5 linked regions of the Homo sapiens genome follow. The protein of the gene in region 1 purifies or fractionates together with the protein of each later gene. This does not show direct contact. Each region holds a gene or a part of one and is shown in the gene's direction. Other genes may lie near its edges. The genes, in order: EIF4H, PGD, KGD4, NDRG1 and LIN54.

The links.
Region 2: the proteins of EIF4H (region 1) and PGD fractionate together in Homo sapiens (co-fractionation; one large-scale study listed by BioGRID). This does not show direct contact.
Region 3: the proteins of EIF4H (region 1) and KGD4 fractionate together in Homo sapiens (co-fractionation; one large-scale study listed by BioGRID). This does not show direct contact.
Region 4: the proteins of EIF4H (region 1) and NDRG1 fractionate together in Homo sapiens (co-fractionation; one large-scale study listed by BioGRID). This does not show direct contact.
Region 5: the proteins of EIF4H (region 1) and LIN54 purify together in Homo sapiens (co-immunoprecipitation; one large-scale study listed by IntAct). This does not show direct contact.

Annotation. Positions count from the first base shown.
Region 1 is NC_000007.14:74,184,341-74,187,862, forward strand, and holds part of EIF4H (eukaryotic translation initiation factor 4H), read left to right. Parts: intron 1-3,270; coding exon 3,271-3,458; intron 3,459-3,522. UniProt on the Homo sapiens protein: Stimulates the RNA helicase activity of EIF4A in the translation initiation complex. Binds weakly mRNA.
Region 2 is NC_000001.11:10,418,528-10,421,023, forward strand, and holds the end of PGD (6-phosphogluconate dehydrogenase, decarboxylating), read left to right. Parts: intron 1-298; coding exon 299-398; intron 399-889; coding exon 890-1,012; intron 1,013-1,102; coding exon 1,103-1,222; 3' UTR 1,223-1,984; downstream 1,985-2,496. UniProt on the Homo sapiens protein: Catalyzes the oxidative decarboxylation of 6-phosphogluconate to ribulose 5-phosphate and CO(2), with concomitant reduction of NADP to NADPH.
Region 3 is NC_000005.10:69,227,754-69,230,674, forward strand, and holds the end of KGD4 (alpha-ketoglutarate dehydrogenase component 4), read left to right. Parts: intron 1-446; coding exon 447-634; intron 635-1,454; coding exon 1,455-1,472; 3' UTR 1,473-2,405; downstream 2,406-2,921. UniProt on the Homo sapiens protein: Molecular adapter that is necessary to form a stable 2-oxoglutarate dehydrogenase enzyme complex (OGDHC). Enables the specific recruitment of E3 subunit to E2 subunit in the 2-oxoglutarate dehydrogenase complex (OGDHC).
Region 4 is NC_000008.11:133,287,253-133,290,774, reverse strand, and holds part of NDRG1 (protein NDRG1), read left to right. Parts: intron 1-3,522. UniProt on the Homo sapiens protein: Stress-responsive protein involved in hormone responses, cell growth, and differentiation. Acts as a tumor suppressor in many cell types. Necessary but not sufficient for p53/TP53-mediated caspase activation and apoptosis.
Region 5 is NC_000004.12:83,000,816-83,004,337, reverse strand, and holds part of LIN54 (protein lin-54 homolog), read left to right. Parts: intron 1-3,522. UniProt on the Homo sapiens protein: Component of the DREAM complex, a multiprotein complex that can both act as a transcription activator or repressor depending on the context. In G0 phase, the complex binds to more than 800 promoters and is required for repression of E2F target genes.

The DNA of each region.
Region 1 (3,522 bases):
AAGCCTTCGCACCTCCATTTTCCTTACTTAGCAACTACATCAAACACCCGAGAGTTTATCATCTCTCTTCATCCTCACCCTCCTTTTTAGTTTTTATGTATATGTTACACATTCATACACACAAACATACCTGCATATATACATGTGTTTTATACGTCCCACACAACTGTGAGCTGCTTACATACAAGACAGTCTTTTAACATCATTACGCATCACTAGATGTTTAATGTTGAGTAATGAATTTAAACTGTTTTTAACATTGACCCTCCATTTTTATGGTTTTCCACATGTTTATACTGTATCTTGTTTTTTGTTTGTTTGGTTTTGTTGTTGTTTTTTGTGCTTTTTTGTTTGTTTTTTGTGTTTTTTTGTTTTTGTTTTTTTGAGATGGAGTCTCGCTCTGTAGCCCAGGCTGAAGCGCAGTGACACAGTCTCAGCTCACTGCAAGCTCCACCTCAGCCTCTGAAGTAGCTGGGATTACAAGTGTGTGCTACCACACCTGGCTAGTTTTTGTATTTTTAGTAGAGACGGAGTTTTACCATGTTGGCCAGGCTGGTCTTGAACTTCTGGCCTCAAGTGATCCACCCACCTTGACCTCCCGAAGTGCTGGGATTACAGGTATGAGCCACTGTGCCCCGCCTTTTTGTTGTTGTTGTTGTTTCTTCAGTTGGAGACAGTCTCCTTCTGTCACCCAGGCTGGAGTGCAGTGGTGCCATCACAGTTCACTGCAGCAACAACCTCCTGGGCTCAGGTGATCCTCCCACCTCAGCCTCCCAGGTAGCTTGGGACTACAAGTGTGGACCATCACTCCCGGCTAATTTTTTGTATTTTTTATAGAGATGGGGTCTTACTGTGTTGCCCAGGCTGGTCTTGAACTCCTGGCTTTAAGTGATCCTCCCGCCTCAGCCTCCCAAACTGTTGGGATTACAGGCATGAGCCACTGGGCCCGGCTTTATACTGTAACTCATATATTTATTATCCCGTCCTAAATAGTATCTTACTGAAAATATTTTAGGATTTATGATTTCGGAGATATCAGCGATAGAGTACTATTGGCAAAGGTTATTGAAATGCAAAGTAAGTCACATTTACTAGGCCCGAAAAGATGGGAGAAGTGGGCAGGTAGGATGCAATTCACTTGTAAACCTATTTTCTGGTGGTCTTAGAACAGAACGTGGAACTTCCTATTGGAAAGTACCGGAATTGTGAATTATGAAACTTAAAAGCTTTTTTTTTTTTAACCATCAAAGAATCATCACAGCTTGGTTGACCCTTCTACTTTAGAAAAATGCTTTAATGAATAATATTTGTCTGCAAGACACCTGGAATTTATCTTCAGGAAGAAGTGGAATTTCCATTGTGTTTCTGGCAGTATGTAGATGAAAGACCAGGTTGCTCTCTAAGATGGATATTAATATTTCCCCTGCAAAGAGGGTGACTTTGGGCAGGTCTTGGGTTGTTGTGAAGGATCTCATTTATTTGAACGCATTTCCCGTTTAGAAAAAAAAACTGCAGTTGGCTGCCAGCACGGTATTCTTGGAGCAAACAGGAAATGGGTTAAATGTCTGTTTCAAAAAAAAATCACCCCCTTAATTTTTTTTTCCTCCTGAGTTTTCCAAACGTTTTATTTTGGAAATTTTCAAATCTACAATAAGGTTGAAATAATGGTACAGTTGGATGACGCTAGTGGATGCAGAAGTGACTATTCTGCCTTGTTTGCTGAATCCTTGCTGTATACCGGCACACATGCCCTTTATGCTGACCTGCTTGAAAACAAATGTTGGCCATCTTGGCACTTCACTTCTAACGACTTTAAGTCGTTCCTGGGGCATTCTTATGGCAAATATCGTTTAATATAATAATCTATTTATACTATATTCTGATGTCTTTTTTTTTTTTTTGAGATGGACTCTCGCTCTGTCGCCCAGGCTGGAGTGCAATGGGCTCACTACAACCTCCACCTCCTGGGTTCAAGCGATTCTCCTGCCTCAGCCTGCCCAGCAGCTGGGATTACAGGCATGCACCACCACACCAAGCTAATTTTGTATTTTTAGTAGAGACAGGGTTTTACCACATTGGTCAGGCTGATCTTGAACTCCTGACCTCAAGTGATCCACCCACCTCGGCCTCCCAAAATGCTGTATTAGGATTAACTCAGTTTTACAAATAAAATAAAGCTTAGAGAAGTTGAATAACTTCTCAAGGTCATATGCTAGTAAGTGACAGAGGCTAGATTTAAACCAATACCTATGCAGAGTAAACGACGCTTGATACAGCTGAGGAGATGACATCGAGGTTGAAATGGATTGGTAATGCACGCCATACGCATGTATTTGAGGACCCTGTGAAGTATTGCACGAGAGTGTTAGGTACGTCAGTACTTGCTGTGTGACATCTAAAATTTTTATTAGGACATTCTTATGCCCATAATCAGGCAACAAGGAGAAATTTTTTTTTTTTTTTTTTTTTTTTTTTTTTTTTTTTTTTTTTTTTTTTTTTTGAGACGGAGTCTCTGTCGCGTGAGCTGAAGTGCAGTGGTGCGATCTTGGCTCACTGCAGCCTCCGCTTCCCAGGTTCAAGCGGTAGGAGAAATAATTCTATTATGTATGAATGTGTTAAACGTAAACAACTTCAGTAATCCTTCTTCTGAATACAACATTACTTCTAGACTGTCCATTTCTGTATTTCTTAGAACCACGGTGTGTGAAGGAGGGTACTTGCTTAGGTTTTAGGATGTAAATACTGCAGATACAGATTCTGAGTGAATAGGAGAGAAGCAGTTGTCTTAGGAAGGTGTGTTACGTTTGGGCTGGGCATGGTGGCTCACACCTGTAATCCCAGCACTTTGGGAGGGTGAGGCAGGCAGACCACCTGAGGTCAGAAGTTGGAGACCAGCCTGGCCAACATGGTGAAACCCTGTTTCTACTAAAAATGCACAAATTAGCCAGGTGTGGTGGCACATGCCTGTAATCTCAGCATCCTTAGGAGGCTGAGACAGGAGAATCTCTTGAACCCGGGAAGCAGAGGTTCCAGTGAGCCAAGATTGTGCCACTGCACTCCAGCCTGGGTGACAGAGTGACAGTCTGTCTCAAAAAATTTTTCTTTTCCTTTTTTTTTGTTTCTCCAGCCATTCTCTGTAACAGTCTTGTGGTACATCGAGCAGAGTGCCTCACCTGGGGCGCTGGCGGCGTAGCTCAGCGGAAGACCGCTTTACTTGTTTTGCTTATTCCACTCTGGGCACACTTGAATCCTGTTTGTCTCCCCTCCTAGGTCCCGCGGCAGTGCTGGTGGCCATGGTTCCCGTAGCCAGAAGGAGTTGCCCACAGAGCCCCCCTACACAGCATACGTAGGAAATCTACCTTTCAATACGGTTCAGGGCGACATAGATGCTATCTTTAAGGATCTCAGCATAAGGAGTGTACGGCTAGTCAGAGACAAAGACACAGATAAATTTAAAGGTGAGTTTGGGGGATTCTTATTGTATATTACTGTAAAGTGTAGGGGAGGATGGGAAGGGGTTCT
Region 2 (2,496 bases), on another chromosome or scaffold:
GCGTTTTGGGAGGCCGAGGCAGGCGGATCACGAGGTCAGGAGATCCAGACCATCCTGGCTAACACGGTGAAACCCTGTCTCTACTAAAAATACAAAAATTAGCCGGTTGTAGTGGTGCGTGCCTGTAATCCCAGCTACTGGCGAGGCTGAGGCAGGAGAATCGCTTGAACCTGGGAGGTGGAGGTTGCTGTGAGCTGAGATCGTGCCACTCCACTCCAGCCTGGTGACAAAGCGGGACTCCGTCTCAAAAAAAAAAAAAAAAAGACTCATTGCTTTTTTCCCCCCTTGATTATTTCAGTGTATTCCTAGGAAAGATAAAGGATGCATTTGATCGAAACCCGGAACTTCAGAACCTCCTACTGGACGACTTCTTTAAGTCAGCTGTTGAAAACTGCCAGGTATGTAGCCTAGGGCTGGTGCCATGGTTACTCTACCTCCCTGGGGCCATCAGTTGTGATGTTTGGTTTTTTGTTTTTTTTTTTTGGTTTTTTGTTTTTTTGAGACAGAGTCTCGCTCTGTCACCCAGGCTGGAGTACAGTGGCATGATCTTGGCTCACTGCAACCTCCGCCTCCTGGGTTCAAGCGATTCTCCTGCCCCAGCCTTCCTAAGTAGCTGGGACTACAGGTGTGCCAACATACCTGGCTAATTTTTTTTTTTTTTTTGTATTTTTAGTAGAGATGGGGTTTCACCATGTTGGCTAGACTGGTCTTGAACTCCTGACCTCGTGATCCGCCCACCTCAGCCTTCCAAAGTGCTGGGATGACAGGCGTGAGCCACCGCGCCTGGCCTAACCATCAGTTTTTCATTTACCCACATTGATATGAATGAAAATCTATCCGCGTCACCAGGGGCAGATCACTAATCTCTGGCCGTGCGTTTTGTGCTCAGGACTCCTGGCGGCGGGCAGTCAGCACTGGGGTCCAGGCTGGCATTCCCATGCCCTGTTTTACCACTGCCCTCTCCTTCTATGACGGGTACAGACATGAGATGCTTCCAGCCAGCCTCATCCAGGTAAGCCTGTGGAGCAGGGATTAACCTGGCTGGCCCCTCGGGGGCGTGCGCCATGGACTGTCCTGACCAACCTACTCTCTCGTTTCCTAGGCTCAGCGGGATTACTTCGGGGCTCACACCTATGAACTCTTGGCCAAACCAGGGCAGTTTATCCACACCAACTGGACAGGCCATGGTGGCACCGTGTCATCCTCGTCATACAATGCCTGATCATGCTGCTCCTGTCACCCTCCACGATTCCACAGACCAGGACATTCCATGTGCCTCATGGCACTGCCACCTGGCCCTTTGCCCTATTTTCTGTTCAGTTTTTTAAAAGTGTTGTAAGAGACTCCTGAGGAAGACACACAGTTTATTTGTAAAGTAGCTCTGTGAGAGCCACCATGCCCTCTGCCCTTGCCTCTTGGGACTGACCAGGAGCTGCTCATGTGCGTGAGAGTGGGAACCATCTCCTTGCGGCAGTGGCTTCCGCGTGCCCCGTGTGCTGGTGCGGTTCCCATCACGCAGACAGGAAGGGTGTTTGCGCACTCTGATCAACTGGAACCTCTGTATCATGCGGCTGAATTCCCTTTTTCCTTTACTCAATAAAAGCTACATCAGACTGATGCTCTTTCTCCAGATTCTTAGTCTCACCTCGGCCACATGGAGCCATTATCCCCATTGGCAGAAAGATTTTTCTTTAAAAAAAAAGACTAGAATAACACAAGAAACCACATTTAGGATTATGCTTCACTCAGAGGAGGCAGGCAGGGAGGACACACCAGGGGCTTTAATACACTGGGCATGTTTTCTTTCTCCAATTGGGCAATGGGTACATGGACGTTCACTGTAACGTGCTTTTTCTTTCGTCTTTTTTTTTTTTTTTTTTTTTTTTGCTCCTGGCAAGCTGTGCGTGACATTCTTTATGGCTTTTTGTATGTCAAATACTTCATACTAAACTTTCTAGAGAATTAAACTTTAATGATGGGCTCAGCTTGGTCTGATTTATTTCCTTTCCCACACCTGTCTCTACTTGCTCTAAGCCAGGCCCAGGGATTTTGAACAAGCTAAGCCGGCTCCTTAAACTAGGCTTTTCACTTTATCTTACTTACTCAGAGAAGATAAAACCTGCCAGTGATATTGTTGTGTGGCCTGGGGCCAGTGTGACTGTTCCCTGCAGCGGTTTGACTTCATGATGATTTCCCTGGAGTGTTAAAGTCCTAAGAGTTGCCTAAGAGGAGCGAGCAGCGCCTGTGCCTCGACAGCTGGTGTCTACAGTGTGACCTCTGACCTCTCGGCTAATGTCAGTGAAGGAGACAATTTTCATTAAATCACCAACTTTTAATTTATTTTTCTTTTTTTTGAGACAGAGTCTCGCTCTGTCACCCAGGCTGGAGTGCAGTGGCGTGGTCTTGGCTCATTGCAAGCTCCACCTCCCGGGTTCACACCATTCTCCCACCTCAGCCTCCAGAGTAGCTGGGACTACAGGTGCCCGCCACCACTCC
Region 3 (2,921 bases), on another chromosome or scaffold:
AGGGTTGAATTCCACTAACTAGAAATTTCATTATTTTACATTTTTGTAATTCATTTACTTAAGACTGCCCCTTAGCTGGGTGCAGTGGCACATGCCTATAATCCTGACTACTCACAGGCTGAGGTGGGATGGCTGGCAGGATGTTTGCTTGAGCCCAGGAGTTCAAGATCAGCCTGGGCAACAAAGCAAGACCCCATCTGTAAACAATAAATGTATAAAAATTTTAAAGCTACCTCCTTATTTGTTTTTAAAAACCTTTATGAAATTATATATAGCCAACTGAGTTACTCTACAATATTTACCTTTTGGAATTATAATACTTCAAGAGTTATTTGAAGAATGACTTCATTTCAAGAATGACTTGATTATTTGATAGTATTTTAAGACTCAGTATTTTGACATCTGAACAATTTCTCTAATAAGGTCTTTTTTTTTTTTAATTTCAGTATCAGAAGCTTTGAGATCAGCAGGGCTACCATCTCACTCTTCTGTAATTTCACAACATTCTAAAGGAAGTAAATCACCAGATTTGCTGATGTATCAGGGTCCACCAGACACTGCAGAAATAATAAAAACATTACCTCAGAAATACAGAAGGAAACTTGTGTCTCAAGAAGAAATGGAATTTATCCAAGTATGTCGTTGCTCTTTATCCCAAGACTACGCAAAACACCATAACATTTGGGCTTTGGGGATTTCATTTGCTGATTTACATGCTATTCCTATTGTCTTGTCAGAGTGTGGTCAGAGCTAAGACAGGATGGTCAGGTAGGCCAAGACTATGAGAAAGAAACCATAGTCAAATCCCTCTGTAAATATGCATGATATATCAATATCAATAGATATAATCACATAAAAAACAGCTCTTTGGGGTCCTGAATAATTTTTCAGAGTGTAAAGAGCTTCTGATACCAAGAAATTTAAGGACAGGTCAACCTTGAGTCCCTTCCAGGTCTGAAATTATAAGAATTGATAAGAGGGCTGGGCATGGTGGCTCATGCCTGTAATCCCAGCACTTTGGGAGGCCAAGGCAGGTGGGTCACCTGAGGTCAGGACTTGGAAACCAGCCTGGCCAATGTGGTGAAACCTCGTCTCTACTGAAAATACAAAAATTAGCTGGGTGTGGTGGTGGGTACCTGTAATCCCAGCTACTCGGGAGGCTGAGGCAGGAGAATCTCTTGAACCCGGGAGGCGGAGGTTGCAGTGAGCCAAGGTCACGCCACTGCACTCTAGCTTGGGCAAGAGTGAAACTCCGGAAACTCCATCTCAAAAAAAAAAAAAAAAAAAAAAAAAAGAATTGATATGAGTACCCAAAAGTTTTGACTAATTCAAAACTATTTTTTAAAAACCAAAGATTACTTACTGAAGATTGTATAAATTTGTAAAATTGCCATCAAAACATTTCCTGAGTCAATTTAACATCTAATCTTACTGCTTTATTTTTTCCTTTTCAGCGTGGAGGTCCTGAATAACCATGGTGGCTGCTGTTTGTCATCAGACAATAGAATTGTCTTTACAATAAAGGACTTCCAAAATGACAGATGAGAAACTGTATATTAAACACCTTTAATAAATATTATGAAAAAAATGAAATATAGAAAATTTAGATGGACACTTGTATTTCCTAATTTATGTATCTTGGTCAGCTTCTCCACAAGCTTACCTAATTGTTTATATACTTTATACTTATTAAAGTATACATTTTTAAATGTTAGCCTATTAATTTACTCTTGATTATCAAACATTACCAGTGTTGAACTATTAAAAGCACACAATGTGTAGTAAACTATCATAGGATTCCCATAATTTCACTTTACTTTCTGTTTAGGCATGGAAAAATTTATCAGTCAGAATTGCTGTTTTAGGGACATGATTTTCCTGAAATTGGGTGAGGATCAGTGAAATAATTACTCTATTACTTGTTCTTAATTCTCTGTTCTCTAATGTTTTTTCATTCACAAGTTTACTGGAGTATAACTGGCTTAGTAAGTATATCCTACTCTGAATGATAAAAATATAGTCAAGCTAAAATAGGTGACTATACTATTAAGATAGAGATCATACAAAAGATTCCAAAGAAAGTCAAAAAGTGTAAAATGGAAAATAAGAGATCAAAATGAATATAGCATAGGAATAAAGATTTCACTAGAAATTGCAATTTATTATGTTTTGGAGGTTGTAAGGAAGTCTTGTTTTTTGGTTTATTTTACTGTTTTGTGATCTTGTATGCAAATCCTGATAACCATTAACCTTCTCAAACTTAATGTCTGAGAGCCTCATAAAATCAACATATTTACTTATTAAGCAGTTTATGAAACTTTAATGGGGCCCCTCCTGTGCCAAGGGTACGTATATTGTGAAGTAAAGCCTCACAAAGCTAAATAAATTCTCTTCCATACCTTTAATGATTTCTAGAATATGCTTTAAAGAAGTCCTCCCTGAGAGTTAAGGGTAGGTCATGAGCAAGAAATAGAATTGGCTTTGAGTATGCTTCTGTATTTACTCAGTTGACTGTGGGTTAATTTTTACTTATTTCTACTACTCCACAGAGTTGATCTACTTCTCTTATAAATTTTTTGCTGTGGCCTAGTGTAAATGTTGTTCAGCACAAATATGAGAGTTTGATGCTGGCAATAAGCTGTTCAGGTGACTCATTGAAAAACATGATTCAGGCCAGGTGCAGTGGCTCATGCTTTGTTAATACCAGCACTTTGGGGAGCCAAGGCAGGTTGATCACCTGAGGTCAGGAGTTCAAGACCAGCCTGGCCGGCAGGTGAAACCCCGCCTCTACTAAAAATACAAAAATTAGCCAGGCAATGTGACACACACCTATAATCTCAGCTACAGGGAAGCTGAGGCCAGAGAATCACTTGAACCCAGGAGGCAGAGGTTGCAGTGAGCCAACATTGTGCCACTGCATT
Region 4 (3,522 bases), on another chromosome or scaffold:
GGGTGTTGTGAAGGGAGAAAAGTTCAAGATGCTGGTTTTGCCAAAAGCTCAAGCCTGCTCATGATGGCTCAGTGGTGACTGCAGGGTGGAGGAGAGGCATGTGACTGTCCCAGCTGACCTCCACACGCTGAAAGCCTCATGGTCACGTGCAGCCCACCTTACAACGTTGTATCTGGGCCACGGGTGGTGGTGAGGACTGTGGATATATTTAGGGCAATGTGAGATCATTGTCAACATTCCCTTTAAGGTTGCTTTAACCTTAAAGCAGCCAGCTTGATGCTTGCTGACTTGGGGCACACATCTTAACCTCTTGATGCCTCAGTTTCCCCGTCTGTTAAATGGTGACATGCTGGCACCTCCCTCCTAGGGTTTCTGTGAGGCTTAAAGGAAGTACCGGGTTTAGAGTCCAGTTAGTGCCACAGATACTGTTCCTGGTGCTGTTTTTGTGGTGTGTCTGTGTAGGGTTACATTGTTGCCTTCCTGTGGCTGCTCTTCCTGGTGGGCGGAACCTGGAACTTCTAGAACAGATCATGGATGTTTCTCTGCTGGATACCCCTTCAGCCTCACCCTGTGGGAGTTGTGGCGGGGCCCAGGAGAGTTTGCTCAAGAGGGTGTGCAGGTGGGTGGCAGAGCTGGAGCAAGGCACTAGTCTTAACAGACAGGAGTCTGAGGCTGGCAGAAGTGGGGGCCTTGGTCCAAGGTGCGGGGCTAATCTGGCCAGAGCTGAGCCTGGCAGGGCCTTGGTAAGACCCTGTGGCCCTTTTGTCTTGGTGAAGCACCTTCCTGCCTGGGTTTCCATTTGCCTGTAAGTTTGTTGTGGACAGCGTGATCTCCATAGACGTACACTGTGCCTACTTTACAGATGGAGAAACCAAGGCCCAGAGAGGAAGTGACTTGCTCAGAGTCATGGAATAGGAAAGTGGCAGGGTCCCCATGCCCTGATTCCTAGGCCAGCGTTCCTGCTGCCCCACTGAGGTTTTTGGGAATCACAGGCTCTGTGTGTCCCCCTCAGTCCCCCAGGGGCTGTTGAACAGTTCTCAAGTGGTGTCGGATTACTGAAGATGCCTCTGCCCACTGCCCTCCCAGGTCCCAGGGTCACGGGTCACGTTCTTTTCTTCCTCGGGCAGATCCTGGCCTTGGCTTTGCCTGGCACCTGTGATCCAGCTCTCCTCTGACTCTCCTGGGTCTGCTGGACTGGAAGGGTATTTGTGTAGCCCCTCTTGGGCCCTCATTACTCATTGACAGACAGTGCTGGTGGAGAGAAGGGCCCCAGTGGTGACGCACTGGGCCTGATAATCAGAAACCTTGGTGGCATTTGCTGAGCATTTTCCATGTGTCCCTCTCCTCGCTGGGACTCTAGGACTGAAACCCAGGCCACATCCTCACAGATGTCCTGGCATCTCCAAGGCAACCCTGAAAGGAAAGTATGTTGATGAATTAAGCAACTGTTTGCTTAATTCTCCATGCCATTCTTGAATTTAAGCCCCACTGCTGATCATTGGGAGCAGGAGTTAGCATGCCCATTGACAGACAAGCAAACTGAGGCAAAGAGGTTAGATAGCCAGGCATGGTGGCATATGCCTGTAATCTCAGCTACTCAGGAGGCCGGAGTAGGAGGATCACTTGAACCCAGGAGTTTGAGACCAGTCTGGGCAACATAGCAAGACCCTGTCTCTCTAAAAAACAAGATGAATAATACATTTTTAAAAAGAGATTCGATAAATTATGCAGGATCACAGAGCTAATAAATGGTGACACCATGGCCTGCAAGCCTTCCCCCAGCTCCTGGCTACCTTTCGCTTCTCTGGCATTGGTCTTCTCGGAATTCCTCCCAGGCAGGTGGATGGGAAAAGAAGTGAAGATACAGGCTGGCAGCTGGTGCTGTGACCTGGAGCCCTGTTTTTGGTGCTAAGCTGGGTTTTAGCTGAAGGAGACCTGCTGGAGGGGTTTCTTCTGTGCTTCTTGGGGAGCAAAGATGGCCTTGGAGATGGAGACACGGTTTGTCAGTCCCAAGCCACTCCAAAGGTGGGGCTGGTGGGCTAGGAGTCAGCCCTGGTTCCCCCGCCATGCTGTGTGTGGCCCTGCCTTGCCACCCCACCTGCTGGAGGACCTCTTTGATGCTTTCTAGTGGGTCCCAACATTCTGTGATTAGGACTTTGCATGAGGCAGAGGGAGGGCAGGAGCTGGAGTCCAGCAAGGACCTCAAGCCCAGGGACAGGCTCCACCTGCCACACTTGCTAAGCCGTGAGGGCCTCAGGTGCCCGGGAGGAGGGAGCAGGAGTGGAAGCACCAGCTCGAGCCGCCAAACCAGGTCACGTATCACCTGCCATTTCCTGCTGGCAGAAGGAGATCACAGACACCAGAAGACAGCAGCTTCTGCCAGAACTGGGTCCTTCCATGATTCTCAGGTGGTGACTTTGAATCCCAGAAAAAGTGTTTTGGGGAGAGTGGAGTGAAGGAAGAGTGTGAACATTGGATCTGACTCCACTCCAGCCCCTGTGCTGCAGCCAGCAGGGTGAGCTCAGGACAGCTGGCAGCCGCTTGGGCCCAGCCCCCTCCTCCGTGAATGAAGGTGGTGGGGAGTGCACGTGTGCGTGTGAGTGCGTGTGAGTATAAATGACTGTGGATGTGAGAGTCCATGAAAGTGAGAATGTATCAGTGTGTAAGAAAGTGTGAGTATGTGAGAATGAGTGTGTTTGTGAGAATGTATGTATGTGTGAGTATAAGTGTGTGAATGTGAGAATGTCTGAGTGTGAGAATGAAAGTTTGCAAGTGTGTCAGTGTGAGGGAATGTGTGAGTGCATTTGAGAGTGTGTGTGTGTGTGTGTGCGTGTGTGCACGCATGCACTAGATTAAATAAGAATGCATCCAACTGACATTTTCTGGATACTGTTACCTACTAGGAATTACTAAAATCAGCTATTCCAGAGGAGGGTGGATGTCGCACCAGGGGACATTTGGCAACGTTTGCAGATTCTTTTGCTGGTCGCAGCGTGGGGTGTATGCTGTGGGCATGTGGTGGGCAGAGGCCAGGGATGCTGCTGAGCCTCCTCCCGTGCTCAGGGCAGCCCCTAAGGCAGAGGCTGCTTGTGGGGCCCAAATGTCAGCAGTGCTGAGCTGAGGATCTCTGTCCAGGAGGCACAGACGCTGTCCTGGATGCTGTCCAGACAGCATCTGCTCTGCCCTCCAGGGGGACAGACAGACAGTGGACACAGCCCAGATGCAGCCTGATGAGTGAGCCCAAGGGAGTGCCTGTCCCCTCGGGACTGTGAGCTCCGTGGGGGCAGGAACTGGGTCTGTTTGCTCATGATCCCCAGATGAGTCCCATAGCCAGTCTCATCACCATAGCTGGTGTTATTTTTGTTCTGAGCTCTGTGTTGGGCACATAGAACCTAGTGGGTAGAAACCTCTGAATAAATCCTGAGTTTTCCATCCTGCTTCCGTGAACTCAGATGTTCTTTGAGGGCCAGCCTGGTGGCGTGGGGGCTGGGAGTGGGCAGATTGTAGGGAGCCAAGTCCTGG
Region 5 (3,522 bases), on another chromosome or scaffold:
AACCTCCGCCTCCCAGGTTCAAGCGATTTTCCTGCCTCAGCCTCCCAGGTAGCTGGGACTACAGGTGCCCACCACCACTCCCAGCTAATTTTTTTGGTATTTTTAGTAGAGACGGGGTGTCACTGTATTGGCCAGGCTGGTCTCAAACTCCTGACCTCGCAATCTGTCCACCTCAGCCTCTGAAAATGCTGGGATTACAGGCATAAGCCACCGCACCCGGCCTGTTTTCTACATACTCTATATCCTATGATGACTCAATTTCTACACCACTCTTCTGTGTTTGAATGCTGCAAGTCTTTCTTTCTTAAATCTCAGGTTAAGTGGTTTGGCTTTTATTTGGCATAAATATGTCATTTATTTTATAAGTCCATTTTGTGCCTTTTTCTTTAGCTCATCTGAATTCTTGTACATTGATTTTGGATGTGATGTGGTTATTCAGATGATCCAGAATGTACTTTATAAAAATACTATTGAAATGAAAATACAAACCTTTCTTTTTTAAAAAAAAATTAGGTCAGGTGCAGTAGCTCATGCCTGTAATTCCAGCACTCTGTGAGGCCGAGGTGGGTGGATGGCTTGAGCTCAGGTGTTTGAGACTAGCCTGGGCAACATGGCGAGACCCCGTCTCTAGAAAAACTAGACAAATTAGCTAGTCATGGTGGTGCACACCTGTAGTCCCAGCTACTTCAGAGGCTGAGGTGGGAGGATCACTTGAGCCCCCAGGTGGAGGTTGCTGTGAGCCAAGATTGCGCCACTGCATTCCAGCCTGGGCAACAGAGTGAGACTCTGTCTCAGAAAAAATTTATTGTTTTAATTTGTTTTTTTCATGGAACACTTCACAAATTTGCATGTCGTCCTTGTGCAGGGGCCATACCAGTCTTCTCTGGGAAATACAAACCTTTCAAAACTTCATCAGAACTCATGGCTTATAGTCTACTGCTCCCAGTTTAGTTTGAGAAATATAGTTCTATAACTGGTTTTTTAGTTGTTGATGTTTTATTTTAGAAATAAAAGCTAAAATCTGGCCGGGCGAGGTGGCTTACACCTGTAATCCCAGCACTTTGGGAGACCGAGCTGGGCGGATCAATTGAGGTCAGGAGTTCAAGGCCAGCCTGGCCAACATGGTGAAACCCTGTGTCTACTAAAAATACAAAAAATAAGCCAAGCGTGGTGGCACACGTCTGTAATCCCAGCTACTCAGGAGGCTGAGGCGGGAGAATCACTTGAACTTGGGAGGCGGAGGTTGCAGTGAGTGGAGATCACGCCACTGCACTCCAACCTGGGTGACAGAGCAAGACTCCATCTCACACTCACAAAAAAAAGCTTAAATCTAAGTGGTATAGTTAACCAGTTAATGCTGGTAGTAAGCTCTAGGTACAAAAAATACAGTTGACCCTTGAACAATGTGGGGATTAGGGACACCAACCCCAAGCAGTCATATCCACATATGCATATAATGTTTGAATCCCCAAAAACTTAACTACTAATAGCCTATTGTTGACCAGAAGCCTTACGGATAACATACATAGTTGATTAACACATATTTTGTATATTTATTACATATCATATTCTTACAATAAAGTATGCTAGAGAAAAAATGTTATTACAAAAACCGTAAGGAGGAGAAAATATAGTTACTGTTCATGAACTGAAGTGGATCATCATAAAGGTCCTCATCCTTGTCTTCATGTTGAGGAGGCTGAGGAAGAGCAGCGGTAGGTCTTGCTGTCTGGAGTGGCAGAGGCAGAAGAGGTGGAGGAGGTAGATGAGGAGACAGGAGAGGTGGGCACACTTGATGTAACTTTATGGAAATACATTGTAATTTCTGTCTAACTTTTTTTCCCCTGCCTCCCTCCCTCCTTCCCTCCTCCCTCCTTCCTCCTTCCCTCCCCTCCTCCCTCCCTCCCTCCTTTCTATCCCTCCTTCCTTCCCTCCTTCCTTCCTTCCTCCCTCACCCTTGCTTTTTTTTTAGAGGTGAGGTCTCGCTATGTTGCTGGTCTTGAACTCCACCTGGGCTTAGGCGATCCTCATGCCTCAGTCTCCCAAGTAGCTGGGATTAAAGGCATGCACCACTATGCTTGATTTCTCTAAAAATATTTCTCTGTGGTAGCAAGCTTTTTTTCACTGTTTGCTTTAGCTTCATTGTGTGTATCGTAGAAGGGTCCATGTCATAAAAAATTTCAAAAGCAGTCTTGAATAATGCCGATTGTCTACTGTCAGTTCGTTTTCTGTGCTTCTTCTACATCTTCTTTCTCATTGTCTGGCACTAGTTCGGAAGCACTCATCTCCATCAAGTTGTCCCCTGTTAATTCCTCTGCTATGGTATCTGTTAGCTCTTGAATTTCTCCAAGATCCCTCCCTTCCTTCCTTCCTTCCTTCCTTCCTTCCTTCCTTCCTTCCTTCCTTCCCTCCCTCCCTCCCTCCCTCCCTCCCTCCCTCCCTCCTTCCTTCCTTCCTTCCTTCCTTCCTTCCTATCCTTTTTTTTTTTTTGAGACAGAGTCTTGCTCTGTCGCCCAGGCTGGAGTGCAGTGGTGCGATCTTCGCTCACTGCAAGCTCTGCCTCCCGGGTTCATGCCATTCTCCTGCCTCAGCCTCCCTGGTAGCTGGGACAACAGGCGCCCGCCACCACGCCCAGCTAATTTTTTTTTGTATTTTTAGTAGAGACGGGGTTTCACCATGTTTGCCAGGATGCTCTTGATCTCCTGACCTCGTGATCTGCCTGCCTCGGCCTCCCAAGGTGCTGGGATTACAGGCGTGAGCCACTGCGCCCGGCTTCTTTTTCTTTTCTTTTTGACAGGATTTCACTCCTGCTCAGGCTGGAGTGCGGTGGTGTGATCATAGCTCACCGCATCCTTGACCTCCTGGGCTCAAGTGATCCTTCCACCTGAGCCTCCTGAGTAGCTGGGACTACAGGTGCACACCACCACACCTGGCTAACTTTTAAATTTTTTGTAGAGATGGGATCTCACTAGGTTGCCCAGGTTACTCAAACTGCGGGGCTCAAGTGATCCCCTCACCTTGGCCTCCCAAAGTGTTGGGATTACAGTCATGAGCCAGTGTGCCTTACCCAAGATGCATATCTTGAAACCCTTCACCTCCCACCATTTTTGTCATATCCACAATTTATTTCATGATTTTCTTCATTGGTTATGTCATAAATCCTATGAAATCATGCACAATGTCTAGACACAGTTTTCTCTGTAAGAATTTATTGCTTTTGGGCTGGGCTTGGTGGCTCATGCCTATAATCCCAGCACTTTGGGAGGCCAAGGTGGGCAGATCACCTGAGGTTAGGAGTTTGAGACCAGCCTGGCCAACATGGCAGAACCCCATCTCTCCTAAAAATACAAAAATTAGCTGGGCGTGGTGGCGCGTGCCTTTGATCCCAGCTATTTGGGAGGCTGAGGCAGGAGAATTGCTTGAACCTGGGAGGCAGAGGTTGCAGTGAGCTGAGATCAAGATTGCGCCACTGCACTTCACCCTGGGACTCTATCTCCAAAAAAAAAAAAAGAATTTATTGCT